4 linked regions of the Homo sapiens genome follow. The protein of the gene in region 2 interacts with the protein of the main gene of each other region in a pairwise test. Each region holds a gene or a part of one and is shown on either strand. Other genes may lie near its edges. The genes, in order: COX8A, MAGEA4, AMOT and UQCRB.

Region 1 (6,559 bases), on a different chromosome or scaffold from region 2:
TGTACTAAAATTGGAACGATACAGAGAAGATTAGCATGGCCCTTGTGCAAGGATGACACGCAAATTCGTGAAGCGTTCCATATTTTTGAAGGGATTACAAACCAAGAGATACAAGTGGCTTCTAGAAATTAGAAAATAAAAGGTAATGGATTCTGCCCTGGAGCCGTGACAAGAAATACTGGCCTTCTGACATCTTGATTTTATATTTCTGATCTTTAGAACTGTAAGAAAATGAATTTGTGTTGTTGTAAGCCAAAAGCAAACAAACAAAAAACTAGAATGGGGTGGGGAAGGTGAGGGAGCGATGAAGAGGGATGAGCTTGGGGCCTGGGAACACATCCCTCCAGAGGAAGCTCAGACACAGCTCCCCTTCTAGGGCACCGCGAGTTCATTGCAACCTTGCTGTGACACCACCCCCCCGCCCCACCACCATGGAAGAGAAACCATGGGCTGAGGTTTCTCTTCCAAAGCTCCTGTTTCTCAATCTCTTGCCATCCCATCGCCACCCCCTGCCACAGCCTTTGATGTTATTAACCTCAATGTCAAAACTGGAACTTCTGGGAAGTCCACCTCTGCAGCAGCATGTGTGGTGGCTAAAAGCATGGCTTTTGGAGGCAACAGAACTGCCCTGTAATCCTGGCAAGGCAGCCTTGTAGCTTCATGATCTTGATCAAGTCACCTGACTCTTCAGGCCTATTTCCTCATTTGTAAAAAATTCGAAATAGGGCAGGCGCAGTGGCTCCCGCCTGTAATCCCAGCATTTTGAGAGGCCACAGTGGGAGGATTGCTTGAGCCCAGGAGTTCAAGACTAGCCTGGGCAACATAGTGGGACCCTGCCTCTACAAAAAATAAAAAGCCAGGTATGGTGGTGTGTGCCTGTAGTCCCCAACTACTCGGGAAACTGAAGCAAGAGGATCACTTGAGCCTGGGAGGTCGAGGCTGCAGTGAGGTGTGGTCGTGACACTTCACTCCAGCCTAGGCGACAGAGCAAGACACTGTCTCAAAATAAAATAATTGAAATAATAATAGCATCTATTTCATGACATTATTGTAAACCTGGAATGAGATTGTACCATTAAGACCTGGCCCAGGGGCTGGTCCCACACCCCCTTTCTCATGTGCCTTCTACCTAGTTCAATACTGTTCAGCCTCCTGCAGTTTATAAACATTCTGAGTGTCTGGTTGGAAACAGTGGTGAACCAACACAGGCTCTGCCCTCAGGTGGCCCCTAGTCTTGATGGAGACCCACCATGTGGGGCAGGGCTGACACAGGTGTTGCTGGGCACAGAGGAGACACAGGCTTGGGGTGACCAGCGAAGGCATCCTGAGTAGTGCCACCCCACATATCTTCCTAGCACATCATGGTTTTATTTTCACCGTGACACTTACACAATAGTTTCTAATTAAGTGCCTGTTTATTGTCTGTTTTTTCCCTCCAGAAGTCAGCTTTGTGACAAGAAACTCTATCCACCTCGTTCATACTGGTGTCTACAATAGTTCCTAACACACAGTAGAGGCTAATAAATATTCACTGAATAAAGTAAGTGGTATCATTAACTGGAAGCCAGGAAGCAGGAGTTAGCATGGTGAAAAAGGCAGCCTGCATAGGAGCTGAAAAAATGAACATAAAATGCAGAAGCAACGCCGGGCACAGTGGCTCATGCCTGTAATCCCAGCACTTTGGGAGGCTGAGGCGGGCAGATGACATGAGGCCAGGAGTTCAAGACCAGCCTGGCCAACATGGCGAAACCCTGTCGCTATTAAAAATGCAAAAATTAGCCGGGTGTGGTGGCATACACCTGTAATCCCAGCTGCTTGGGAGGCTGAGGCAGGAGAATCGCTTGAGCCAGGGAGGTGGAGGTTGCAGTGAGCTGATATTGCACCACTGCACTCCAGCCTGGGTGATGCATGTCTCAAAAACAAAACCCAAAGTGCAGAGGCAAGGCCAGGTGCCCTGACAAATGCCTGTAATCCCAGCACTTTGGGAGGCTGATCTGGGTGGATCGCTTCAGCTCACGAGTTTGAGACTAGCCTGACTAACATAGCAAGACCCCCCTCCAGCTCTACAAACACTACAAAAATTAGGCTGGGCGCTGTGGCTCATGCCTGTAATCCCAGCACCTTGGGAGGCCAAGGTGGGTGGATCGCCTGAAGTCAGGAGTTCGAGACCAGCCTGGCCAACATGGTGAAACCTTGTCTCTACTAAAAATACAAAAAATAGCCGGGCATGGTGGCAGATGCCTGTAATCCCAGCTACTCAGGAGGCTGAGGCAGGAGAATTGCTTGAACCCGGGAGGCGGAGGTTGCAGAGAGCCAAGATAGTGCCACTGCACTCCAGCCTGGGCAACAGCGCAAGACTCTATTTCAAAAAAAAAAAAAAAAAAAAAAAGCCAGGCATGGTGGTGGGCACCTGTAATCCCAGCTACTTGGGAGGCTGAGGTGGGAGGTTGGCTTGAGTCTGGGAGGTGGAGGTTGCAAGGCTGCAGTGAGCCGAGATCACACCACACTCCACTCCAGCCTGGGCTTAGAGCTAGACCTTGTCTCAACATCAATAACAAAATGCAGAGTGCATTTTGAATGCAACAAAAGGCTTGTTGGTGGAAATCAGAGAGCAGGGTCGAAGGTGTGGAATATTGAAGAGTTTTGAGAGTTGAGGCTGGACAGTGACATCCGGGAATTGGGATTTTGACTAGGAAGCAATGGGGAGCCACTGAAAGTATATGACTTGGTCAGATTTAGGTTTAAAAAACCAAGAAGGAAGGGATGGGGGAGGGAGAGAGAGTGATAGGGTAGGAAGGAAGGGAAGTTGGCTGCTCCAGCATGGTAACTGGAATTGAAGAGTGTAATAGTAATTGAGGGAGGTTTGGTTACTAGGTCAGTGTCAGGAATTCTCAACAAAAACGACGGAGGCCTGGTGGAGAGGAGGGGACTCTCAATAGAGAGATTTTTTTTTTTTTTTTTTTTTGAGACGGAGTCTTGCTGTGTCGCCCAGGCTGGAGTGCAGTGGCGTGATCTCAGCTCACTGCAACCTCTGCCTACCGGGTTCAAGCAGTTCTCCTGCCTCAGCCTCCCTAGTAGCTGAGATTACAGGCATCTACCACCATGCCTGGCTATTTTTTGTATTCTTAGTCGAGATGGAGTCTCACCATGTTGGCCAGGCTGCTTTCGAACTTTTTTTATTGTTGTTTTTTATTTTTGAGATGGAGTTTCGCTCTTGTGGCCCAGTCTGGACTGCAATGGCTCAATCTCGGCTCACTGCAACTTCCGTCTCCTGGGTTCAGCAATTCTCCTGACTCAGCCTCCCGAGTAGCTGGAATTACAGGCGCCCACCACCATGCCCAGCTAATTTTTGTATTTTTAGTAGAGACGGGGTTTCACCATGTTGGCCAGTCTGGTCTCGAACTGTTGACCTCAGGTGATCCACCCGCCTCGGCCTCCCAAAATGTTGGGATTACAAGCGTGAGCCACTGCGCCCGGCCAATTTTTGTATTTTTCGTAGAGATGGGGTTTCACCATGCTGGCAAGACTGGTCTCAAACTCCTGACCTCAGATGATCTACCGGCCCCGGCCTCCCAAAGTGTTGGGATTACATGCGTGAGCCACTGCGCCCGGCCAATTTTTGTATTTTTCGTAGAGATGGGGTTTCACCATGCTGGCAAGACTGGTGTCAAACTCCTGACCTCAGATGATCTACCCGCCCCGGCCTCCCAAAGTGCTGGGATTAGAGGCGTGAGCCAACGCGCCCAGCCCGTACTTTTTTTTTTTTAGTACAGACGGCCTCCCAAAAGTTCTGAGATTACGGGCGTGAGCCACCACGCCCAGCCTGAATAGAGAGAGATTTAACAGTATGAATGAAGGGAGGAGTCAAGAACAGTTTAGGCTTCTCGCGTACATGATTGGGTGGCCCCAGATGTCATTCACAAGTATAAGCCTTGGAGGCGGAACATAACTCGAAGAAGAGCCCTTTTGTGCTCCGCCCATAGCGTAGGAAGGTGTCAATTGGCTGTTTCGAGGAACGCGCCAAAAACTGCCAAGGGCTGTGGGAGGTGTGTTCTTGCGTCATTTCCGAGAGACTTCCGCGCCGCAGTTTCCCTGCTTCCCCAGCTCCAGAACTTCCGGCCAGCGCAGCCATTTTGGCTTCCTGACCTTGGGCTACGGCTGACCGTTTTTTGTGGTGTACTCCGTGCCATCATGTCCGTCCTGACGCCGCTGCTGCTGCGGGGCTTGACAGGCTCGGCCCGGCGGCTCCCAGTGCCGCGCGCCAAGATCCATTCGTTGCCGCCGGAGGGGAAGCTTGGGATCATGGTGAGGAACGGGCCTGGAAGAGCGCGGGAGGCGCCGTGGGCTGACCCCTTCTGCCTAGCTGACCTCAGGTGGTCCTGAGAATGCCTCGCGCCCCGCAGCGTAGCGGGGAGCAGCAGTGCCGGTTTGGGCATGTCTGGAGGGCGCGAACGACGGGGACAGTGCCCGGGCGACAGTCGGGGCTGTCGGCGTTAGGTCTTTCCCCACAGCCCCAGGATCTCGGGTCTGGTCCTGTCAGGCCCTCCCTCTCCTGTCGCCTCCTCGCTGCGCCGCCTCCTGCCGACTTCTTTAGCCGCTCTGAGCCCATTTTCTCGTTGGTTCACTGGGGGATGCCTGACGCTGTCAGCGACGAAAATGGTTGTTACTGCTATTTATTTTATTTTATTTTATTTTACTTATTTATTTTGAGACGGGTTCTCGCTCTGTCGCCAGGCTGGAGTGCAGTGGCGCGATCTCGGCTCACTGCAGCCTCCGACTCCCGGGTTCAAGCGATTCTCCTGCCTCAGCCTCCCGAATAGCTGGGACTACAGGCGCGTGCCACCATGCCCAACTAAATTTTGTATTTTTAGTAGAGACGGGGTTTCACCATGTTGGCCAGGATGGTCTCGATCTCTTGACCTCGTGATCCGCCTGCCTCAACCTCCCAAAGTGCTGGGATTACAGGCGTGAGCCACTGCGCCCGGCCTGGGAGGGGGTTTTCAGGCAAGGAAGGATAGGTATCGTTTTGGAGTTACTGGCCCATGCAAGGATCCTGGGTCTTAACATACAGGCTTTGCTTTTTTTGTTTGTTGTTTGTTTTTTTGAGACGGAGTCTTGCTCTGTCACCCAGGCTGGAGTGCAGTGGTGCGATCTCGGCTTACTGCAACCTCCGCCTCCCAGGTTTAAGCCAAGCCATTCTCCTGCCTCAGTCTCCCGAGTAGCTGGGATCACAGGCGCCCGCCACCACTCCCGGCTAATTTTTTGTATTTTTAGTAGAGACGGGGTTTCACCATGTTGGTCAGGCTGGTCTCTAACTCCTGACCTTGTGATCCGCCCGCCTTGGCCTCCCAAATTGCTGGGATTACAGGTGTGAGCCACCATGCCCGGCCCAGACCAGCTTTAAAACAGGTTTCAATAAATCCTGCTTCCTGTCCCTTCCTTTACCATCTGGTGGTGCATTTCTCCCTGAACCCTAACCCCAGCTGTCTCTCCTTCCTCTCACTCTTCCCCCTCCTTATAACTGACCCTTTACCTCAAGGGTTAGCGTAGCTTTGGACCTGCTCTGTCTGCTCCGTGGAGCGTGGATTCCTTTAACGTGAGGATGCGGGGCCTCCCACTTGCCTCTGAGTCCTGGCTCCCTGAGCGGGGCTTTCTGCTGCCTGGGAACTGCAAGGACTTAGAGAGCCTAGGGGAATACTGACTCCGAGGTGCCTTCTTTCTTGTGCTCTGTGTAGGAATTGGCCGTTGGGCTTACCTCCTGCTTCGTGACCTTCCTCCTGCCAGCGGGCTGGATCCTGTCACACCTGGAGACCTACAGGAGGCCAGAGTGAAGGGGTCCGTTCTGTCCCTCACACTGTGACCTGACCAGCCCCACCGGCCCATCCTGGTCATGTTACTGCATTTGTGGCCGGCCTCCCCTGGATCATGTCATTCAATTCCAGTCACCTCTTCTGCAATCATGACCTCTTGATGTCTCCATGGTGACCTCCTTGGGGGTCACTGACCCTGCTTGGTGGGGTCCCCCTTGTAACAATAAAATCTATTTAAACTTTACTTCAGAAATTCATTGTGCCTTCCCTCCTGCCTGGGCTCATGCCTCCACTGGCACTGGGTGGAGGTGTGGAGAAGAGCGCCCGGCTGGCTGCCCTGTGGTAGGTTTTGTGTGCCTCAGCTGGACTCCTCGTGTGCTTCTGTACCTTTAAATGGTGCCTGGCTTCCTGGGAAGACAAAGCCTGTTGTCATTGTGCAGCTTTTCTGGCTCATCCCCTCCAGCTCCCTTGTTTGTGCAAAGCCCAATGGGCGTGTATGTGTCTGTGTGTGTGTGTGTGTGTGTGTGTGTGTGTGTGTGTGTGTGTCCCACTGGGGCTGGATCTTCAGCTAGAAGCCTTTCCTCTAAGGGGCCAGCCTTCTCTGGTCTTCCTTTTTGGTGGACTTCATTTCTTAGGTGCTGGTGCCCTTCCTAATTGGGGGTAGGGACTTTGCAGAATCTTGGCTTTTTTTTTTTTTTTTTTTTTTTTTTGAGACTGACTCCTGCTCTGTTGCCCAGGCTGGAGTGCAG
Region 2 (7,209 bases):
TTCATTTGGTGAATGGATTAAAAAACACGTAGATTAAAAAAACAGAATAGAGCCCCAACATAGACCTGCACACATACAATCAAGTGATTTATAACAAAAGCAATAAAGGTGAAAGTATAGTTGTTCCAACAATTGGTACATGAACAACTGGGTATCTAAACAAAAATAATAATAATAACCTAGACAAATCCTTAGGTATTTCACGAAATTAACTCAAAATACATCATAGACCTAATGCAAAATGCAAAAACTATACAACTTCTATAAGAAAACATGAGAAAATTTACATAACTTTGTTTGTTAAAGAGCTTTTAAATTAAACACCAAAAGCAAAAGTAGCAATGAGCACACCTAGCACCCAGAAGTAGATTTCTAGAACCATTTCCCATTAAAAGGAACCAGATATTTGGAGAAATGGCTTATTTATGACTGGGGCAGGGCATAAACCTGACGAGCCTGGGCCATTTTGCAGCCCTAGAAATTAAGGGCTAGAGAATATGATAAAGGACATTACAGTGTTGCAAATCCAGACTATGGAAAACTGGAAAGAACATAAGATATGTTTCTTTCCAACAACGAAGCGATGGCAAGAAAACAGATCATGTGGAGGGGACCTACAGGTGAGAGAAGATTTAATTACAAAAAATCACTATGTAATACTATTTTTGGGTACTCATCCAAATAAACAAATTTTTATAAAGTATAAGTCTTCTAGATAAGTGCATAAAACAGTTGAACATTTCATAATCATTTATTTATTTTTTAGAAATGAGAATTGTATTGGGTTTTTATTTGTAGTGATTGTGACCCAGAGGTGACTACAATCACGGGTGCTGCAGCCACCCAGGGAACACCTCGCCTGGTACCTGCAGCCATTCTCTGCGAGGGGTACAGCTGGGTACAATGTCCTTGTCTTTTAAAAATGAATATTGAATTATTTAGAGATGAAATGGTATGCTGTCTTTGATTTGATCCACATTATTCCAGCAGCTGAGATGCAGGTAGGTGAGTGTCTAACTGGAACCAGATTTGCCGTGTATTTAAGGTTGTTGATGCTGAGCGTCAGGTATGCTGGGTTCATTATGTTAGTCTCTCTATTATTCTATATGTGTGAGGCTTCCCTGATAAAAAAACGTTTTTTGTCATAAATATCATGCCATTAAAAATGAAATCCTAAATGATCCAACTATTTTGTAGAAATAAAATAAACAAATGACCAAATTGATCCAAAAAGAAAACTTCAATTAAACGACACAAACTGAAACTATACAATATTCAAAGCTCAAGCCATCCTCAAACGTCCCAGGTTAGTCGGTTTCGGAGGCTGATTCCACCAAATGATCAAGGAAAACTAACCATCATCTTATCTCAACTCTTCAAAGCACGCAAAATATAGACAATTCTTCAATTCATTCTCCCAGATTAACCCTTCTGGATTCAAAAATCAGATGAGGACCACCCCCCACTCCCGATGGAAAAAACACATAAACAAGCTCTCTTACATAGCAGCAAATATCTTATGTAAATTAGTAGAATATTAAATGAACAAACAAGCTCTACCCAAGGAAAGAAAATATGATTTAACATTAGAAAAAAAAGTTTCATTGTAATTTTTTACACACAAAATAGAGGAGAAAAAATTTATCACATCAATGGGTACAGGAAAAGCTTTTGGAAGAAATTCAATATGAGTTCATGGTAAAAATATTTAGTTAACCTATATTGAAAGAGAACATACATTTCCTAAAATCAACAGCAAACAAATTTAAGAAGTTCAAAGAATTATCATTAAAGGCAGGAACACGAAGTAGATGTAGGCTATTATCTCTACGTTTTAAATCATCATTGAGACACAAAGTCAGAGCTATAAGTATCATAATAAATAAGGGGCATGAATATAGGAAAAATACATAATGTTTAGTGATAATACCCTTATCATTCTTGAAAATTCAAAGAAAAAGGCATGTGGAATATTCAAGTCAATGGGTTTTCAGAATGAGGTGTACAACAGATTACTATAGCAAAATCAAATTCTCTGCCACACAATAGCAATAACTATTAGAGTTAATTAATTTCCATTAATTAGAACAATTAATAGAAAATATGCCATTTGCAATAGCAACAAAATCCAAGAATTACCAAAAAAGAAGCCTAAGAAAAATGTGTAAGGTCTTTCTAGAGGAAACTATCAAAGTATACTGACAGATTCAGGTAAAAGGAGTTTGAAATAAGTAAAGGAGCATAACCTATTCATTGATCAGGAGCAGAACATTGTAAAAATGTCAATTCTGCTTAAATGATTTACAATTTAGTGTCTTACCTGTAGCTGCCAAAAATTACAGTCACACTTAGGCTGCTGTTCTCTGGTTCCCAAATCAACTCTGGAAAATTATAGAAGAGAAAAAGAAAGAAAGAAAAAACAACAATATAAGCAATAAAATCTAAGCAACAAAACACAGAAAGTCCTGGGTGAGACTGAGGACTGTGTTGAACTGGTACTTATGTTTGGGGCGGTGTCAGTTGGAGGGGGGTTGGCTGCAGGGATGTTGAAGTCTATAGCCTGCCTAGACGTCAGATGACAGAATGAATAGGATGAACATTTTAAAATCTCCACCTCACTGCACTGCACAATCTGAGGCAGCACCTCAAAACACGATTCCAGTAACCCTAGGGTAATAGCAGGACAGCAGGAAAATTGGGTTGGTTAAGGCAGTATGGTTCCGGAGATCTGCTAATTACAACCTGAAACCAACTTAGTGGATGAGGATTAGCATTATTATTATTATTATTATTAATATTATTATTATTATTATTATTGAGACTGTCGCCCGGGCTGGAGTGCAATGACTCGATCTTGGCTCACTGCAACCTCCGCCTACCAGGTTCAAGCGATTCTCCTGCCTCAGCCTCCCAAGTAGCTGGGATTATAGGCGCCCACCACCACGCCCAGCTAATTTTTTAATTTTTTTTCTATATTTAGTGAAGACAGTGTTTCACCCTGTTGGCCAGGCTGGTCTCGAAAAGAATTATTTTAACAGAACATAAACAATGGAATAGAAGTTGAATAGGGTATCAGAGTGAATCATGCAAACTAAGGGTAGGTATTCTTTCATAGAAATAAATATATATGTTGCTACCTATATATATCCTTGGAAGATATGTAAAATATATTTCTTTGAGGAAAAAAGGTTTCCAAAGTCCAGCTCTGGCTGGGGAGGAGCCCCCGTGGGAAGGCGTGCATCTTCTCACAGAGGTCACTACAATAACGGGTGCTGCAGCCACCCAGGGAACACCTCGCCTGGTACCCGCAGCCATTTTCTGCAAGGGGTACAGCTGGGCAAATGCTCAGAGGTGAGAGAAAAAGAGCATCTCCAACCCATCACTTCAACAAAGAGCCAGGACCCAGGAAGAGGACCCTCCTGAGTGAAGACTGAGGGTAAACCCCCGCTCAAAGAGGGGCCACAGAATCCAGCTTAGTCCCTCCTGTCAGCCCTGGAAGACCCCAGCGGCTTTGTCGCCCAAGGACACCTCTCCCCCCACTGTGACCTCAGGGGACTAGGAGTCAGAACCTTGGTCTGAGGGGAGCAGACACCATCCGCAGAGAACAGGGGTCCAGGCTATGCCAGGAATCAAAGGACTGAGGGGCACGCCTACCTCAACCCCTAACCCCAGGACCTCTCGCCTCCTCCCCCACCCCAACTCCCACCCTGGCCGAATCCGGTTCCACCCCTGCTGTCAACCCAGGTGGCCCGGATGTGACATCCCTGACTTGCGCATTGGTCTGACCAGCAACTCGAGATCCACGGAGGGAAGCAGGCGCAGGCTCTGTGAGGAGGCAAGGTGGGGGCAGGCTGTGCCAGGCGTCAAAGTCAGGACCCTAAGAGAGAGCTGAGGGTTCCCCACCCCCATTCCTATCCCCCACCCCATTCCCATTCCCTTCCACACTCCTAACCCAATCCACACCCTCATCCCCTACCAGCACCCCATCCTCCCCAACCCCGTGCCACCCTCATACCCCCATCCCCAATTCAACCCCCGCACCCTCATCCCCCACCCCACACCTGCACCCCCACCCCCCAACACCCATACCCCCATCCAGGCAGGATCCCCGGTTCCGCCCCCGCTTTCAACCAAGGAAAGCCCCAGCTGCCCGGATGTGATGCCACTGACTTGCGCACTGGGGGTTAGAGACAAGCGAGCTTCTGCGTCTGACTCGCAGCTTGAGACTGGCGGAGGGAAGCCCGCCCAGGCTCTATAAGGAGACAAGGTGAGATGCTGAGGGAGGACTCAGGAGGACCCCCACCCCACATAGACGACCACAAAAAATCCAACACCACCCCTGCTGCCAGCCCTGGGCCACTCCTGGAGACTTCTCAGTCTGTGGTGGGGGGGCCACCACCCCACTGCCACTTAAGCCTCAGGGGATTCTGAAGTCAGAGCTTGGGGTGATCAGTGCAAGACTGGTGGGGGCAGGCTCTGCCAGGCATCAACCTCAGGACCCTAAAAGCCAGCTGAGCGTACCACACCGCTATTCCCATCCCGCAACCCCATTCCCATCCCCTAACCCCTTCCCATTCCCATTCGCACTCACAAACCCATCTACACTCCCATCCTCCACCAGCTCCCCATCCTCCCAAACACCCCACCACCTTCATACCGCCATCTCCCACCCCCAAAAACCCGCCCCCTCCACCGACCTCACCCCTCCCACCCCCATCCACGCTGAATCGGGTTGCGCTCCCTCTTTCAACCCAAGAAAGCCCCAGGGGCCCGGATGTGATGCCACTGACTTGCGCATTGGGGGTTAGAGAGAAGCGAGCTGCTCTGTCTGACCAGCAGCTTGGGATTGGCGGAGGGAAGCGGGCCAGGCCCTGTGAGGAGTCAAGGTGAGACGCTGAGGGAGGACTCAGGAGGCCCCCACCCCAGATAGATGACCCCAAATAATCCCGCACCACTCCTGCTACCAGCCGTGGGCCACCCGTGGGCGGACTTCTGAGTCTGGGGCGCCCACCACCCCACTGCCTCTGAAGTTGCAGGGGACTCTGGAGTCAGAGCTTGGGTTGATTAGTGTAAGACTAGTGAGGGCAGGCTCTGCCAGGCATGGACCTCAGCACCCTAAGAGAGGGCTAAGCGTACCCCACCCCTATTCCCATCCCCCACCACGTCCCCTTTCCGATTACCATTTGCACTCCCAAACCATCCACGCCCCCATCCCCCACCAGCACTCCTCTCCTCTTCAACCCCCCACCTCTCTCATACCGCCATCTCCCACCCCAACAACCCGGGCCCTTCTACCAACCTCACCCCTCCCACCCCCATCCACACTGAATCACGTTCCGCTTCCGCTTTCAACCCACCCCCAAAAACCCGCCCCCTCCATCGACCTCACCCCTCCCACCCCCATCCACGCTGAATCTGATTTCCGCTTCCTCTTTCAACCCAAGAAAGCCCCAGGGGCCCGGATGTGATGCCACTGACTTGCGCATTGGGGGTTAGAGAGAAGCGAGCTGCTCTGTCTGACCAGCAGCTTGGGATTGGCGGAGGGAAGCGGGCCAGGCCCTGTGAGGAGTCAAGGTGAGACGCTGAGGGAGGACTCAGGAGGCCCCCACCCCAGATAGACGACCCCAAATAATCCCGCACCACTCCTGCTACCAGCCGTGGGCCACCCGTGGGCGGACTTCTGAGTCTGGGGCGCCCTCCACCCCACTGCGTCTGAAGTCGCATGGGACTCTGGAGTCCGAGCTTGGGGTGGTTAGTGTAAGACTAGTGAGGGCAGGCTCTACGAGGCATCAACCTCAGGACCCTAAGAGAGGGCCAAGCGTACCCCACCCCTATTTCTATCCCCCACCGCCTCCCCTTTCCCATTACTATTTGCACTCCCAAACCCATCCGCGCCCCTATCCCCCACCAGCACTCCTATCCTCAACCCCGCACCTCTCTCACACCGCCATCTCCCACCCCAAAAACTGGGGCCCCTCCACCAACCTCACCCCTCCCACCCCCATGGATGCTGAATTGGGTTGCGCTTCCGCTTTCAACCCACCCCCAAAAACCCGCCCCCTCCACCGACCTCACCCCTCCCACCCCCTTCCACGCTGAATCGGGTTTCCGCTTCCGCTTTCAACCCAAGAAAGTCCCAGGTGCCCGGATGTGATGCCACTGACTTGCGCATTGGGGGTTAGAGAGAAGCGAGCTGCTCTGACCAGCCGCTTGGGATTGGCGGAGGGAAGCGGGCCAGGCCCTGTGAGGAGTCAAGGTGAGATGCTGAGGGAGGACTCAGGAGGCCCCCACCCCAGATAGACGACCCCAAATAATCCCGCACCACTCCTGCTACCAGCCGTGGGCCACCTGTGGGCGGACTTCTGAGTCTGGGGCGCCCACCACCCCACTGCCTCTGAAGTCGCAGAGGACTCTGGAGTCAGAGCTTAGGGTGTTTAGTGTAAGACTAGTGAGGCCAGGCTCTGCCAGGCATCAATCTCAGGACCGTAAGAGAGGGCTAAGCGTACCCCACCCCTATTCCCATCCCCCATCACGTCCCCTTTCCCATTACCATTTGCACTCCTAAACCCATCCGCGCCCCCATCCCCCACCAGCACTCCTCCTCGACCCCCCACCTCTGTCATACCGCCATCTGCCACCCCAAAAACCGGGGCCCCTCCACCAACCTCACCCCTCCCACCCCCATCCACGCTGAATCGGGTTCCGCTTCCGCTTTCAACCCACTCCCAAAAACCCGCCCCCTCCACCGACCTCCCCCCCACCCCCATCCACGCTGAATCGTGTTTCCGCTTCCGCTTTCAACCCAAGAAAGCCTCAGGGGCCCGGATGTGATGCCACTGACTTGCGCATTGGGGGTTAGAGAGAAGCGAGCTGCTGTCTGACCAGCAGCTTGGGATTGGTGGAAGGAAGCAGGCCAGGCCCTGTGAGGAGTCAAGGTGAGACGCTGAGGAGGACTCAGGAGGCCACCACCCCAGATAGACGACCCCAAATAATCCTGCACCACTCCTACCTGCCGTGGGCCACCTGTGGGCGGACTTCTGAGCTTGGGGCGCCCACCACCCCACTGCCTCTGAAGTCGCAGGGGACTCTGGAGTCAGAGCTTGGGGTGTTTAGTGTAAGACTAGTGAGGCCAGGCTCTGCCGGGCATCAATCTCAGGACCCTAAGAGAGGGCTAAGCGTACCCCACCCCTATTCCCATCCCCCACCACG
Region 3 (7,025 bases), about 39 Mb from region 2:
TCTTTCATTTTTGCCCTTGGAAAGATCTGACAGTCAGCTTGAAGACATTCAGTTCTTGTGACCCAACCTGCTTACATTCTGAGAATTGAATTTGTCAGTTTTTAGATCCCAATCTTCAATATATCTTAAGGGACATTTTGCTGTATAGAACTAAGCAGGCATGATCAATGAGCCTGTGTGTGTAGCTCTATTTTCAGCCTCAGTTAAGGTGGCACATTTAAGGTCAGCCCTGTTTAATACTAGATGACTAAGTGACACCTGTCTTAAATGGTCAATGTATTATAGACAGAGGTTGATTTGCAGACCTGACCATAAAAATCATCCGGTCCTAAAGCAGGGGAGGCAATAGGTCAGAGATGCCCCTGGTTTAACAACAGTGGACACAACAGGCATTCCTTCCGTGACTTCTTAGCCAGAACTCTCAAAATAAGGCAGTTCTGCTGTCCATCTTCTCTTTGAAGATTTTTCCCTAATCCCTCTCCATCTATTCCTGACCTCAACTCTGCTCAACATGGAAAATGAATTCTCTATGATGACACTTATCACAGCAAATTTTCCATAAACTTTTACTGAGCACTTACTGTAGCCAGACATTGTGCTAGGTAAGGCCTAGGGTGGCAATAAATAAATAAATAAATAAATAAATAAATAAATAAATAAATAAAAAGAGAGCCCAGTACTTGAGGAGCTCCCAGTCAGGCAGAGGAGGCCCAATTCAACGGGAAAACAGAGGTATGAGCTAATAGCTCCGGCAACACATAGGGCTCTGCAAAAAACCCTGGGCTACCTGAAAAAGCTCCCAAGAGGAGGAAAATATCAAAAACCTATAAGCTGAGTAGAAGACATGGAGTGTGATGACCAATTTGACATCAAAGATAGGTTGAGATATATCTTTGGGAGTCATTAGCATATGGATGACAGCTAAGGTCATAAGAGAGGGCTGGACCATATTGACTAGGAACAGAACAGAACCCAGGATGAAACTAAACATGGACTTCTGGGGAAAAAAAAAAAAAGATCATTCAAGGGTTAGGTACTTTGCAAATGTGGGAGGGAAAGAAATTCCTTTATTTATCCCGATGGCCTTTCCTCCCATATATCTCCAAGCTAGACCTTGCAATACACAGCTCCAGGGACAGAAATCCCCAGCTGTAGTGTGGAGAGAAAAAAAGAAGTTAACTCTCACCTTTTAAGCTTCTGAGTGCCCTGGTAGCAATCACTATTACGGGTTGAGCCAGAAATGGAAAGGGAAGTTGCTAGACTGTAAGATCTTAGAGGGCATGGGCGGGGTGCGTGATTTTTCATTGTATGCATCCCAATACCTAAAACATTAACTGGTACATAAAATGTGCTTAATAGTTGCATACTGAGTGAATGATAACTTCCCCAAAACTTTGCTAGAGGCCACAGCAGGAGAAGAAAACAAAGAAAGACATGGAATAACAATAATAATAATGTTATTATTACCTTTAGTTTCTCAGCCTTCCTTCTAAGGAGACAAAAGCTCTTTCACTCTGCTATCTTATTTGTCCTTCTTAGCAGCTCTGTGGGGAAATAAAGGCAGATGTGATTAATTCCATTTTAGAACTGGAGAGGGAAGCTCAAGTCCAGAACAGATAGCTAATCATAACTAATTGGACCAGAATTTCACTGTTGCCCATTGGTAGGGCCAGCATTGGAACCCAGGTCTTGCGACTTCCTGCCCTGTGCTTGGTTCTAAGACATAACCCTCCACAGAATTGCCCCTCCAGTTTTTAAGAGGACAGTTCACAAGAGAAATTCATTAGGAAAGCAAACTCCTGAAACACTCTAACAGTATCTTGAGCAAGTGAGTGAGCTGCATCTAAAAGAAAGTAATCTGTTTCCCCACGCCAACACTGGGATGACTAAACCCAGTTCCCAGTGGGGCTCTACTAACATAATTGAGAGCTCCCTGTTTCGCTGTGCCCCTTTTCAAGGGAGCCCCATCTGCCTTCAGTCTGGTTTTTGTGTCTGAGTGGGGCTCAGGTGCTGACTGCAGGTGTGGCATCCAGCAGGTGTATGGACAGGAGCCAGCATTTCATATCTTCATACCAAAGGGCCTGAGTCACTCTCTGAAGGCAGAAGGCAGCCCCTCCTCCTCCTGCTGTTGCCTTGCAAGCACAGGGAACCTGCCTTGCCTGAGGTGCCACTGCAGAACTGAATCTAAACCCTGCCTTCCCAAGAAGGACTAAGGTGAGATTAAACCACAAATCATATAACCCAGCTAACTTTCTTATTTGCACAAACTACTGCAGGCATACACCTACACCGTGGGCACAGCATATGGGAACCTAGGTACAGAATGACCGTCACCTAAAGTGATGCGGGGAAAGGAGGGCCACAACTGGCCCATATTTTACATTTGGCTATAAAGCATTGACTCTACTGCAAATGGCCCTAAAATCTCAGAAGCAAGTACTCACCCCCCTAAAAAAAGGTGGAGTACAGTAAAAAGAACCTGCTAGAAATCTTGCACTCCTGTTCTCACCATAACCTCTTTCCTTCAGGCTTCCAAGGGAGAACCACTTAGCCTGGTCACAGAAAGCACCAGGTCAGAAAATTCATCATGTTCCCCTAACCAAAGCCCAACTGGTCCCAGCCTGAGGCAGACAGAATGTTCCTGGGAGTAAAGGGGGGGGGGGGGTCATCAAAATTTTCTTAGCTTCAAAAACTGTTTGCTTTTTAAAAAAACAATCTGCCTCCCCTACTCTCTCTCTCAGGCACACACACATAGACCAAAGAGAAACTAATTGTAGAAGAAAAAAATGAAATCTTACCTTAATAAAATGGTTTGTTGTCATTTGTTCTATTTCCCTAATTCATACGGGAAATTCAAATAAGCTTTGGTTTATAGCCCATGATCCAGAAAGCAAAACTGGCTACCACACTAAAATGTGATCATTGTATATAAACATAGTAAAACAAAACTCTGAACTGAAAATCTAAATGTAATAAAGAGGAATTAGGTTTCTTCAAAACAGGCAATCTAAATAATTTTCCCCATCTGTGATTTTTATCTTAGTTTGCTATCACATGGAACAAATGTCACTAATTCAATGCAAATACATGCCCCTTGAAAACAACCAAAATGAGTAAGGGATGTACTAATTAGCTTCCTAATGGGGAAGGTTTTAATTGAGCTATTCTTTAACAATCTTCATCAAAGTTTCCAGGGCAACTTCATAAAAGGATGTCAAACCTGGCCCATATTTTTATTCCCTTAAAAATAATTTTCAATACACAGAAACACAGAAAGCTGATTTCTCTTCAATGCTGTTAACACTCAGGCCACTACATTTTCTGATGTCAGCAATCCCCTTCCCACAAATATTCCAAGTATGCACCACCGTCATTCTCCTTTCAATTATGTGGTTTCTCTGCTCCTTTACTGATTGAGTCCAGGCCTCTCGGATAATGAGAAGCATGTGCAGGGAAAATATGCTCTTAAAAAACACATACATCAGTTTTATCTGCATTATAAAGAGGAGAGCAGATCGTTTGTCCATATCAAAAAGATTGAAATGTGAAGTTTGCTATGGGGTATATATAAGGGGAAAAAAAGATCAGTATCAATGCCTAAGGTTGATAGGGGGGCGGCACAGTTATTGTGATCTGATGTGACACCAATAAGAAGAAGGGAGACTCTCCACCAAATCCACCCTTTCTAGCTTGGCCACATTTATATTTCATGTTATCTTAATGTTTCTTTTGGGGGTATTTAAGTTCTGACATACACATGGAAATGAGCCACGAATTGTACAGCAAGCATAAATATTCCATCATTAATAAAATCCAGCTGTGTATAAAACACTACAATGGCTGGGTTTCAGTTACTGGCTATCATCAGTATGTGTCACAAGCAAATATTACTGAAAACTTTCTCCCTTAAAACGTGCATGCGCACACACACAGAAGTTTGCTTTATTCTTTTTCATCTTTTGGAGGAGCTTTGAATAACTCACTGATCTCTATAGCCCTTTTCAACTAACGTTTCTTTTTGAAGCTATTTTTCACCACCCTGTAAGATGCTAGAGTCCTCTTATTTGTACCTCAACTTACCACACAGTACAAAACTGTTTAATTTTTTTTCCAAAAAGCCGAGAGGGCCAATAATACAAATGTTGGGTTAATGGTAATTACAGTCAGTAAGGCAATGGGGCACCAAAGGGCACTGTATGTTATAAGAGAGCAAAGCTCATTAAAAAGGAACACCTGCTCAAGACCCTATAATAAGCCTGCTCTGCCATCATGCAAACACCTTTCATCCAATGACCTCAAAGCATGTGCCCAATATGAAGCATGCCGAAACACCTCTGTGATTATTAATATCCTTGCTTCCCAGAAGGGTAACTGAAGCTTAGAGCAGCTAATTCATTTACCCTTGGTCACATGGTAAGACAGAGAGGGGCTGGGCAGAGAAAACCAGATCCTGGCTTCAAGTCACACAGGCTAATGATATTTCATGGAGTTAGGGCAAGAGTGAAAGTGCCTTTACAAATGTCAAGGCAAGCCCACAGACTTAAAAGAGTAGATTTTCAAGAATTGCCTTAGGAAACATTGGCAAATACACCCATTTGCATTTTCTCCAGGATCATATATTACAAAAAAAAAAAAGTTCCTGTTCCTCATTTGCTACTTTCTAAATACTAAAAACCCATACCACACTTTCTATTCCAGTTAGAGAAATTTAATCTAATTTATGATGAGCCACTGGTTTCCAGGAATGAATCCATCAAATCTTTTTTTTTTTTTTTTGAGACGGAGTTTTGCTCTTGTTGCCCAGGCTGGAGTGCAATGGCGTGATCTTGGCTTACTGCAACCTCCGCCTCCCAGGTTCAAGCAATTTATTCCTCAGTTTCCTGAGTAGCTGGGATTACAGGCATGCGCCACCATACCCAGGTAATTCTGTATTTTTAGTAGAGACAGGGGTTTCACCATGTTGGTCAGGCTGGTCTTGAACTCCTGACCTTAGGTGATCCGCCCGCCTCTGCCTCCCAAATCGCTGGGATTACAGGTGTGAGCTACCATGCCTGGCTAATCCATCAAATCTTAGAGATCACATGTATACCACACCTTTGTTATCAAAGGAAAATTAAAGAACTATGAAATTTGACTACATGGTGAAGACCTCAGATGAAGAACCCATTATGTGTGGGCCATTCTGCTGCTGCACTTCTTGTCTTTTATTTAACTGTCTAAAATCCTTAGTTTCTTTGCTATCTTTTAGTCTAATTTAAACATATTATTTTCCATGCTACAAAACAAGTATATTTGTGCTTTCCTGCTTCTCCTTTCTCATTCTGGAGATTTCATATTCCACTCAAATTTATACTCACTTGATGGGATTTCACCATACAGTGACTTAAAAATCATTGCCAATGATTTACACAAAGTAAACAGTGGACCCTAGTTTTGTTGTTGTTGTTGTTAACAAGAATGGGGGAGGGATAACAGGAGGTCAAAGGAATTAAATTAACAGCCTTGCTAGATACATGAACAACTCCTGAATCACAGAGAGTGTTTAGGGATTACTTATTATATCCATTAGCCTCTCCTGGCATTTGAGAAACAAAATATATGGGAGTCTTCATGTGTCCTCGGTCAGATTCTGACTTAGTTCCTCCACATGGGTTCACAAAGTTAAGTCTTGGGTGGGCTCTTATTGAAAAGCAACATTGTATATATCTGTGGCTCCAATTATCTAAAACTCATGTTAGTACAGGAACCAGGACTTGAAAGGAACTAGAAAAAATGAAAGCAGGTGATCTCTTAGGATGATGGAATTCTTGAAGTTTTGGACAGAGTCTTAGCTTCTTAATTTTGGGTTGTTAAAATGTAAAACATAATGCATCTATATTCATATATCCTTACAGGATCTTTTTTTCTTTAACATGATGACTAGATGATTGAATTTCTAACAACTGTTGCACTTCATTCTAGTAGCAATCATTCACATTCATACTAGATATTGAGGCCTAGAAAGAAAACCATAAACGTATAAGAACTGGCTCTCAAAATTACCCTGTCCAAACCCATAATTTACAGTGGAAAAAAAAAAACTTAACAGAGGTAGTAAACCGAGTTACAGTTGGGCCTAGAGCCCAGGTCCTTCTCACCAATAGGCTCACTAGGAAATCTTATTGCAGATTCTTAGGTTAAAGTGGCATCAGTCGCCATTATTTACTAGAAATAACTTTCTGGATCCCTGGGTTAGTCAAATACAGTAGCTGGAAATAAAACATTTTACCTATATGGGGTGGATAGTCTCATCCTTAGAATTGTTCAAAATCTATAAAGTCTGATTTATTTTCAAAAAGTAATACTAGCTTTCTTCTGCAAGCAGTTGTAGGCCAGAGCTAACGTGGCCAGCATTATTACAAGCCAGAATGATTTAGACAATTAACTAACTCCATTCCATATAACAAAAAGATTTCAAAGGCCAAATAATGGCCTCACTTAATTTAAGCGATAATCATTACAAATTCTTATGTATTCCTTTATGCAATAAATATGCTTCCGAGAAGGCCCAGTTAGAGTGAATTTTTATATATCAAGTCATAGTTTAAAGGCACTAACTAGGAAAGCTAGTACTTACAAAGAAAACCTGTTGTGGATTCTTTTATAAAGCAAATGACCTCCTATTTTCTTTCTTTCTTTTTCTTTTTCTTTTTTTTTGTTCAGATTGTGTGTGTTGTGTGTGGAAGGGGCGACTTCCCTCCTTTCTCTGGGTTAAAAGGGGTCAGAAGCCCACCATGGAGGAGAGTAATGCAGTATGGCCAGCCTGTTTAATACCCCCTTAGTTCCTGGGACAAAATTCTAACCTTTGACTTGGGGGTGGAACCCTAGAATTTGGACCAAAGTCCACAAAAGGCAGCAAGGAGGGAAAAGTAAGTAAGACTAAAGACAACACATCATAGTAAAACACCAACAAAAATTCCTGGGGACAGGAAATCAATGGATCACAATTCTAAACAAATTGGTTTAGTCCCCAGCTAATTAACTTG
Region 4 (7,690 bases), on a different chromosome or scaffold from region 2:
TTGCCCAGGCTGGAGTGCAGTGGCGCGATCTCGGCTCACTGCAACCTCCGTCTCCTGGGTTCAACCAATTCTCCTGCCTCAGCCTCCTGAGTAGCTGGGATTACAGGCATGCGCCACCACGCCCAGCTAATTTTTGTATGTTTAGTAGAGACAGGGTTTTGCCATGTTGGCCAGGCTTGTCTTGAATTCCTGACCTCAGATGATCCGCCTGCCTCAGCCTCACTAAAGGCGTGAGCCACCACGCCCGGCCGAAGATTTGCTTTTTTAACACATTCTCCTCTGTCTCTGGAGCACTCAATCTTCTTTGCACACAGTATAGCCCTGAATTATTTTATTATTGTTTTGTATGTTGATTTTGAATCCCTTTTTCTAGTTTCTTCACAGAAAATATAGGATTTAAATCCTCTGGCATTTATCCTACTTACTGAACACATGGTCAGTACTTGGTATTGGTTAACCTATTAAAATTTTTGCCAAGTAAACTTTTTAATATTTCATCCTCCCGTGTGCAGTGTTTTTTAAAAACTTTTTTTTCTTTTCTAGGTATTTAATACAAGGCTGTTTAAGGTCAAAGAAAGACACTTGTTTCTTACCTATTTAGGAAGAGCACAGTATGATCCAGCAAAACCTAACTACATCTCTTTGGACAAACTAGTATCTATTCCTGATGAAATATTTTGTGAAGAGATTGCCAAAGCATCAGTACAGGACTTTGAAAAATTCTTAAAAACGCTTTAGATTTTTATGTATGTTAAAATGCAGTATTGTAAAGTGAATATATATATGAATAAATGAATATATTTTTAAATGCCTCGGGTCTCAACTGATATTGGAAACCATTTGATACTGTAAATTTGGGTACATATACTGTGGTAGAACTTTCATCAAGTTCCTAGTGACTTAATTCTTGTTTGACTTTTTCCTTCCTTCTTAGGAAATACAGCAAGCTCAGAGAAGGGGAAAGAGTTGGTTTACTTTAAGTTGGTGCTTTGTCATTCTCGTGAAGATGAAAACAGTGGAGGATTTTTAAAGTGGTTTCATTATAAAATGGCTTTATTTCCTTTGAACTGTTACGAGTTTCCAGAGCATACTACATTAGTCATCTAATATCTACTGCTCAGATAATGCTACAAAACACACTTCATTTTGGATTATCTACATTGTTAACTTCTTGAACACAGATATTCACAGTTGGCTAAGAATAAGGAAAAGGAAAGTGGAGTTTAAAGATTAGGGGCAATGAGATATAGTGAAAGGCTTAACTAGCCTTTGACTTATTACCAGTAAACAAATATTTGTTTTCCATTTACAACATGTGTTATCCTGGGCAAGTGATTTCATTTCTGAGCCTTTGCTTTTTTATTTGTAAAACGAAGCATCATGACTTCAGTTGTCTGCCTTATGATCACCAGATTGGGTAGACTGTTAACACTGGGGGCCCCCATGAACCATACCTGGTATTTGCACTCTTGTGTAGTTAGTCCTCTCCCACACTGACTCTGGGCCGATGTGATTTGGCCCAGAGGACATTTGTCAAGCAGAGGCTTAAGGATTTGCACATCAGGGCTTGCCCTCTTGGAACATTTGCTCTTGGCACCCTAAGCTACTGTGTAGAGAGGTCTGGTTACTCTGCTGGAGAAACTAGGTGGACAGAAAGATGTCTGGCCAAACCCAGCTTTTTCAGACATGCCAACTGAGCACCAGACATGCATGAAGAAATTATCTGGGATGTCCCAGACTTAGTAGATACTACACTAAGCAGAACGACCCAGCGGAATTCAGAATTGGGAGAAAGTGTTTTAAGCCGCTAACTTTGGGGGTAGTTTGTTGTGCACAGGGTTCTGTGGTGTGCTGGATGCCCTTTAAAAAACCTCATGAAAAACTAAATTTGTAATTGGTCAGGGCCAGGTATAGTGGCCTTCCTGTTACATATTTTATTCATGCAACCGACATTTGAGTTCTATAATACAGTGGTGAGTGTGGCATAGATATGTGCTTTCATGGAGTTCTCCAATGGATGAGATCAATAAACAGGAAACAATAAAAAATAAGCTGGGGACACCATGGAACCATCCTGTCCTCTCTTTCTGTGGCTCACAACCTCATTTTGCCTTTATGAATAACCCAGTGAACAACCTTAGCAGTCAGAATAGGCAAGTTGTGTTGATACAATGAACAATCCTAAAACCTCAAATGATTGAAAAACCACAAAAGTTTTTATCTTATACATGTTTCTTAGGACCACAAAGGCTCTGCTCCACATCATCTTCAGTGATACAGGTTGATGTATCCTGTCTCCATCATTTCTGGAGTGTTGCCAGTCTATGGAAAAGGAAAGGAATGTGAAGAATTGCTCTTAAAAAGTTATCACATTTTTCTTGGCCAAAGTATCACATGGCCATGCCTAACTTTAATAGGGCAGAGAGGCAATCCCTAATCCTGTGCTGGGAGGAAAGAAAACCAAAAATAGTTTTTGAATCAACAATCACTACCAGCAAACATTCAGTCTCTCTAGCTTAATTCCTTAGGAGCTGGATTTTGTGACAATTTTGGGTTTCAGATCTTTTGATATGTCTTTTCTTGCCACCTTCACCTGTAACCAGCAAGCTAAAACTTAAAGGGTGGAAGGGAGGAGAGTTTATTGAGTACCTACCCTCTGCAGGGCAATGTGCCAATGTACAAATGTACTGCATTTCTTCACATCTTTCAGACTTCACTTTGGCTAGTGTAAGATAGATCATTCATCAGCTTTAGTGCTGTATACAGGACTGACTAATGAAGAAATTGTGACAGCATGGAGATAGAAGAAAAAGGAAAATCAATATAATTTTAGAACTGGAATGTGACTAAGATCGTTAAATCTAACCTTTTGAACTTAGGATGAGACAAGGTTCTACTCTATATTGTCCCAGCTCTGAGCTTAAAACTGAGGGGAAAAAAAAGATATCACTGAGTAATGGTAGAAGTTCACCAGTAACTATCAGTCATGCTAGCTCCCCCTAATTGTTTTCTGTCTCTAGATGTTTATGCCTAAGACTTCGCATGTTGGGGTTGAGACCTTAAAAGTGAGAAAATCTATATACTTCTCTTTTGTCTTAAAATTGTGTGCAAATTCTGCAATACATCTTAGATTTAATCTTTAAAAACCTTTTCTGCTGGGCATGATGGCTCACGCGGGTAACCCAGCATTTTGGGAGGCTGACGTGGGTGGATCACTTGAGGTCAAGAGTTTGATACCAGCCTGGCCAACACGGTGAAACCCCGTCTCTACTAAAAATACAAAAATTAGCGGGCATGGTAGTGTGTACACCTGTAGTCCCAGCTACTCAGGAGGCTGAGGCACGAGTCATTTGAACCCAGGAGGCAGAGGTTGCAGTGAGCCGAGATTGTGCCATTCAGCCTGGGTGACAGAGGCTGAACAACAAAAAAAAGGGTGAAAAAAAACAAACAAAAAAAACCCAAAACCTTTTCTGACCTAACCTTCCACTAAAATAGCTAGATATAGATCTTCAGCTGGAGAAACCCAAGGCCTGAAAGGCTTGGTGTCTTTCCTGGATTAGTAGTGTAGCAGTATAGCATATGACCCTAGAATTAAGGAGCCCCAAATTTGCATCTGGATTTTCAGATTCTGGAAGAAGAACCTGGACTCTTCTAGTCATGTGCTCTTGGACAAGTTATTCAACCTTTCTGAGCCTCAGCTTTCTCCTCTCTACAATGAGATAATTACAGTACTTTTAGAATTAAAAGATAGTTTAGGGGAGTGAGAGATCACCTCCAACCCTCCCTCCCCTTTGCTCTTATGTGGGCTCTTTGGTTGAATCTAGGAACCAAATTGACACATGGCAGATTAACAAGAGAAAAGCATACTAATTTTACTAGTTTTACATGTACATGGGGATCCGCACAAAAGAGTGAAGTGGCCAATGTAAGATGCCTTTATACTTTTTACACGAACTACAAATCAGAAGAAAGGGGATCTGGCTAGGGGCAGTAAATTTCTCGCGGAGTCATTAGGAGAAAAGTGTGTGTGTTGGGGTGTAAACTTAGTGGAAGATAACGGTTACTTCGGAAAGTATATTCAGGTCCAAAGCAGCCCCCAGTTTCGTCTCTGGTGATAGGTGCTATTTTCTCCCTCTGGTAAGGGACGGGTACTCCAGAGGAATCCTGGAGGAAGCTTTATGGCTTGCTGCATGCAGGAAGAGATAGGTCATCAAACCTTTTCTGAAACTACAATTTCTCCAATATTTTCAACTCGAAATAATCAATGTACCAATTCCATATATTTTTGGGATGGCACATCCATCAGTCCTTCAATAGAAAGTAAGACGATGCCCTTAAAACATTTAGCTTCCTGCCTGGCACAAAGAGCTGAATTAATACTGTCCACGCTCCCATAGCTATTAACAGCAAATAACAGAACCCAGCTTTAAGCCTTGGTCTCCTAATTCCTGACCTGTGTTCTTCCCATCACATCACAACCAATACTTCTTAGAATGTAGCACGCAAAATGCCCCGCCTACTCCATTGGCCTCACCCTGGCCGAGAGGTGCTTACGCAGGTGCTGAACGGCAGTCGTCAGAACTGCGCCTGCGCAAGCGGCCTTTCTCTGTTCGCGATGTGACGTAACGCGCCTGCGGACTGGGCCCAGCTTGTCCTCTATGACTTACCCAGAAGGCAACGCTTCTCTTTCTGGTCAAAATGGCTGGTAAGCAGGCCGGTAAGTAACTGGGGGTCTTCTTGGCCGGCATCGTCGCGCTTCACCGTTTATTTTTGCTGCAGCTTGCTCCGTTTTCTCTCTTCTTTGTAAGTGGCCAAGTTTGTCGCGGAAGGGAAATTGGCTGCTTCAGTCCAGTGAAAAGGATGTGCTTCCCCACTCGTTTGCTGTCCCCAGGGCGGGCTTGCCTGTATAGGGTTGGGATGTTAACCCGCTGTTTGTGAAGGTGCCCGCGGTGGCTCTGACAGCCCTGGAGTTCCAGCTGCCCGTGCTTGGAAGTCCTTCCCCTTGGCCTTAGAAAAGTTAAAGGGCACAAGAGGATAACTAGTGGATGACTTTCAACCCGAATGAGCTCAGTGCTTTCTATGACCCAAGTGCTCTATCGTGTGCATTGGCCCTATAAATTTTCTTGCCATTGCGACGAGGGAGATATTAATTTCCCTTTTACGCTGATAAGATAACTGAGGCAAAGTGACCCAAGGAAGTAGAATTGGAAATATCATTGCACCCCTCGCGCTTCTCAAACTGCGAATCAGAGACAGTTGAGCAAGGGATACGAGCGACGCTTCAGGTTGACCTTGGATTATCTAGAGCGTCAGCTTGATCAGTAGGTTTGGAGAAATTTGAATTTATTGTAGGTTCTTTTTTTCTTTTTTCTTTCTTTTTTTTTTTTTTTGCTAATCTCTGCCCTCTGGCGGTACAAGTTGGAGTAGCCGTTTTGTTTGTTTGTTTGTTTTGTCTTTGAGACGGAGTCTTGCTTTGTCGCCCAGGCTGGAGTGCAATGGCACAATCTCGTCTCACTGCAATGCAACCAAGTTGGAGTAGCTTAAAAAATGTTGATCCTTTTCTCCCCGCCCCCAGCAATTGTGAAGCTGTTAGGAAACATCAGGTTGCCAGAAACATCCGTTAACCTAATTGACATTGAGCTTTTTGGGGGTGGGGGAGACTTTTTAAATAATTATTTTATTAATTTGGCAGATATTGAAGGAGTCTTACTAAATTCAAGACACTGCTTCTGTGCGTGTTTGGGAACTACATAGACCAGATCTCAACTCCCATTAGCTAACTCTGACCTTGGGTGGGATCACTTCTGTAAGCCAGCTTCCCCTTCTGTAGTAACAGACATGTAAATAAATCAGCTAATGTTGGTAAAGCAAATAGGAAAGTGTTTGGTGCACAATAAGTGCTTAGTGAATATTATTATAGTCACTGATAGGTGGTTGAATATAATCTGTCTTCCACAAGTATGTTTGTAGATTGTTGACTGATACTTGTTTTTCTAGCAGCAGTTTTATACATGACTCTTAATTTCCAAGGAGATTTGCTAAAGCCACGTAATCTGTAGTGCACTGAGTTTGCAAGCAAGGAGAGTTGAGTGAAAGGAGAGTTTGCTTTCCTTCCTTGGTAAGGGCTAACCCTAGACAAAATTTTAAAAGAGAATACAAACCTGTTCTACCTCTCCTTTTGTAAAATGTCTCTCCTAAAATGTCAGATACGGTCCTGCTGTACTTGGACCCTGCTGGGTTACTTCATCAGGCTCAGCCCTGTTCCCCAAACAGTTTTAAAATTACCTATTTCTCATCCTTTTTCAATATCCATTCCCTTGGGGGGAACTTAGTTGCTTAGGAGGAGGTAAATGGACTTCTTTTACGAATCCATATTAATGTTTAAATGACTAATGGTATCAAAATCCTCCCCAAAATACATACATTTTTAAAGAATGTGGCCAAATGAAATAACTGTAATATCGAGTAAAAATTTTAGAGGATGAGGGTCATTTAGACCTGCCAGTCTATGCTGAAATCTCACTGTCTTTTCCCTACAACTCCAGCTCTCTTGAAATGAAAAGTTTACAATTATTTCCTGTGATCTATTTATGAAACTACAAATGATGGAAATTTCCAAGTCCTTTTCCTATCTCCCACCCCTTCATTTCTGAAGGTAACAGGGCAGGCATAAGGGCACACGATGTACCTATGGATCTTTTGTACATTCAGTGTTTGAGTTTACCCTTTTCTTTCATGACTTGCCACCATTTTCCTGCAACCACTTTTGCTCATAAATAAAATAAGCACTTTTTATCAACATTTTATAGAGTATAAACTTTTTTCTTTTAAATCTAATTCTTTTGATTAAATTCTTGCTGTATATACTATATACTTTTAAAAGGAAATTTATTTCTATGTTTGCATTCATCAGCAAGATAACTGAGTACTGGTTGCTTGCCTATCAATGTGTTCATATAGTATAATTAAATTGTAGCAATTAACAGTGTGACAATTATCAGTTTCAGCATCAGGCAAGTGGCTGGATGGTATTCGAAAATGGTATTACAATGCTGCAGGATTCAATAAACTGGGTAAGCAGCTGTGCTGTTTAATGTTTTTTGTTGTTGTTGTTGTTTCTTTGTTTTTTTTTTTGTTTTTCTGAGAGTATTGCTTTTGCAAGTGTTACTGTGGTTCCAAAAACCATTTCAGTTCTTGTATACATCAGAAGATTTTAAAATTAAATCACATTATGTTAAATCCAGTTCCTTTTTAAAGTTTTTTTGAGAGAAGAGGGATGAAAGCCTCTAAAATGTTCGACTTGGTAATGATTTAAGTAGTAAGACATTTTCCTTCTACACCCCCTTTCCCAACTCTTCCACTTAAAATTTTATTTATTTATTTATTTATTTATTTGAGACAGAGTCTTGCTCTGTCACCAGGCTGGAGTGCAGTGGCGCAATCACGGTTCACTGCAACCTCCGCCTCCCGAGTTCAAGTGATTCTCCTGCCTCAGCCTCCTGAGTAGCTGGGATTACAGGCGTGTGCCACCACGCCTGGCTAATTTTTTTTGTATGTAGTAGAGACGGGGTTTCACCATATTAGGCTGGTCGCAAACTCCTGACCTCAGGTGATCCACCTGCCTCGGCCTCCCAAAGTGCTGGGATTATAGGTGTGCACTACTGCGCCCGGCCTTCCACTTAAAATTTTA

The links.
Region 1: the proteins of MAGEA4 (region 2) and COX8A interact in binary tests that used the Homo sapiens proteins (3 or more experiments, as listed by UniProt).
Region 3: the proteins of MAGEA4 (region 2) and AMOT interact in binary tests that used the Homo sapiens proteins (3 or more experiments, as listed by UniProt).
Region 4: the proteins of MAGEA4 (region 2) and UQCRB interact in binary tests that used the Homo sapiens proteins (3 or more experiments, as listed by UniProt).

The regions. Positions count from the first base shown.
Region 1 is NC_000011.10:63,970,490-63,977,048, forward strand, and holds COX8A (cytochrome c oxidase subunit 8A, mitochondrial), read left to right. Parts: upstream 1-4,130; 5' UTR 4,131-4,191; coding exon 4,192-4,305; intron 4,306-5,735; coding exon 5,736-5,831; 3' UTR 5,832-6,054; downstream 6,055-6,559. UniProt on the Homo sapiens protein: Component of the cytochrome c oxidase, the last enzyme in the mitochondrial electron transport chain which drives oxidative phosphorylation.
Region 2 is NC_000023.11:151,908,703-151,915,911, forward strand, and holds the start of MAGEA4 (melanoma-associated antigen 4), read left to right. Parts: upstream 1-4,186; 5' UTR 4,187-4,267; intron 4,268-6,807; exon of another isoform or gene 6,808-6,935; intron 6,936-7,209. UniProt on the Homo sapiens protein: Regulates cell proliferation through the inhibition of cell cycle arrest at the G1 phase. Also negatively regulates p53-mediated apoptosis.
Region 3 is NC_000023.11:112,830,827-112,837,851, forward strand, and holds part of AMOT (angiomotin), read right to left. Parts: exon of another isoform or gene 2,799-7,025; intron 1,545-2,798; 5' UTR 1,468-1,544; intron 1-1,467.
Region 4 is NC_000008.11:96,232,539-96,240,228, reverse strand, and holds the start of UQCRB (cytochrome b-c1 complex subunit 7), read left to right. Parts: upstream 1-4,683; 5' UTR 4,684-4,698; coding exon 4,699-4,717; exon of another isoform or gene 4,718-4,936; intron 4,937-5,692; exon of another isoform or gene 5,693-5,806; intron 5,807-7,001; coding exon 7,002-7,073; intron 7,074-7,690. Other genes in the region: MTERF3 (transcription termination factor 3, mitochondrial isoform 1 precursor), read left to right, coding at 544-738. UniProt on the Homo sapiens protein: Component of the ubiquinol-cytochrome c oxidoreductase, a multisubunit transmembrane complex that is part of the mitochondrial electron transport chain which drives oxidative phosphorylation.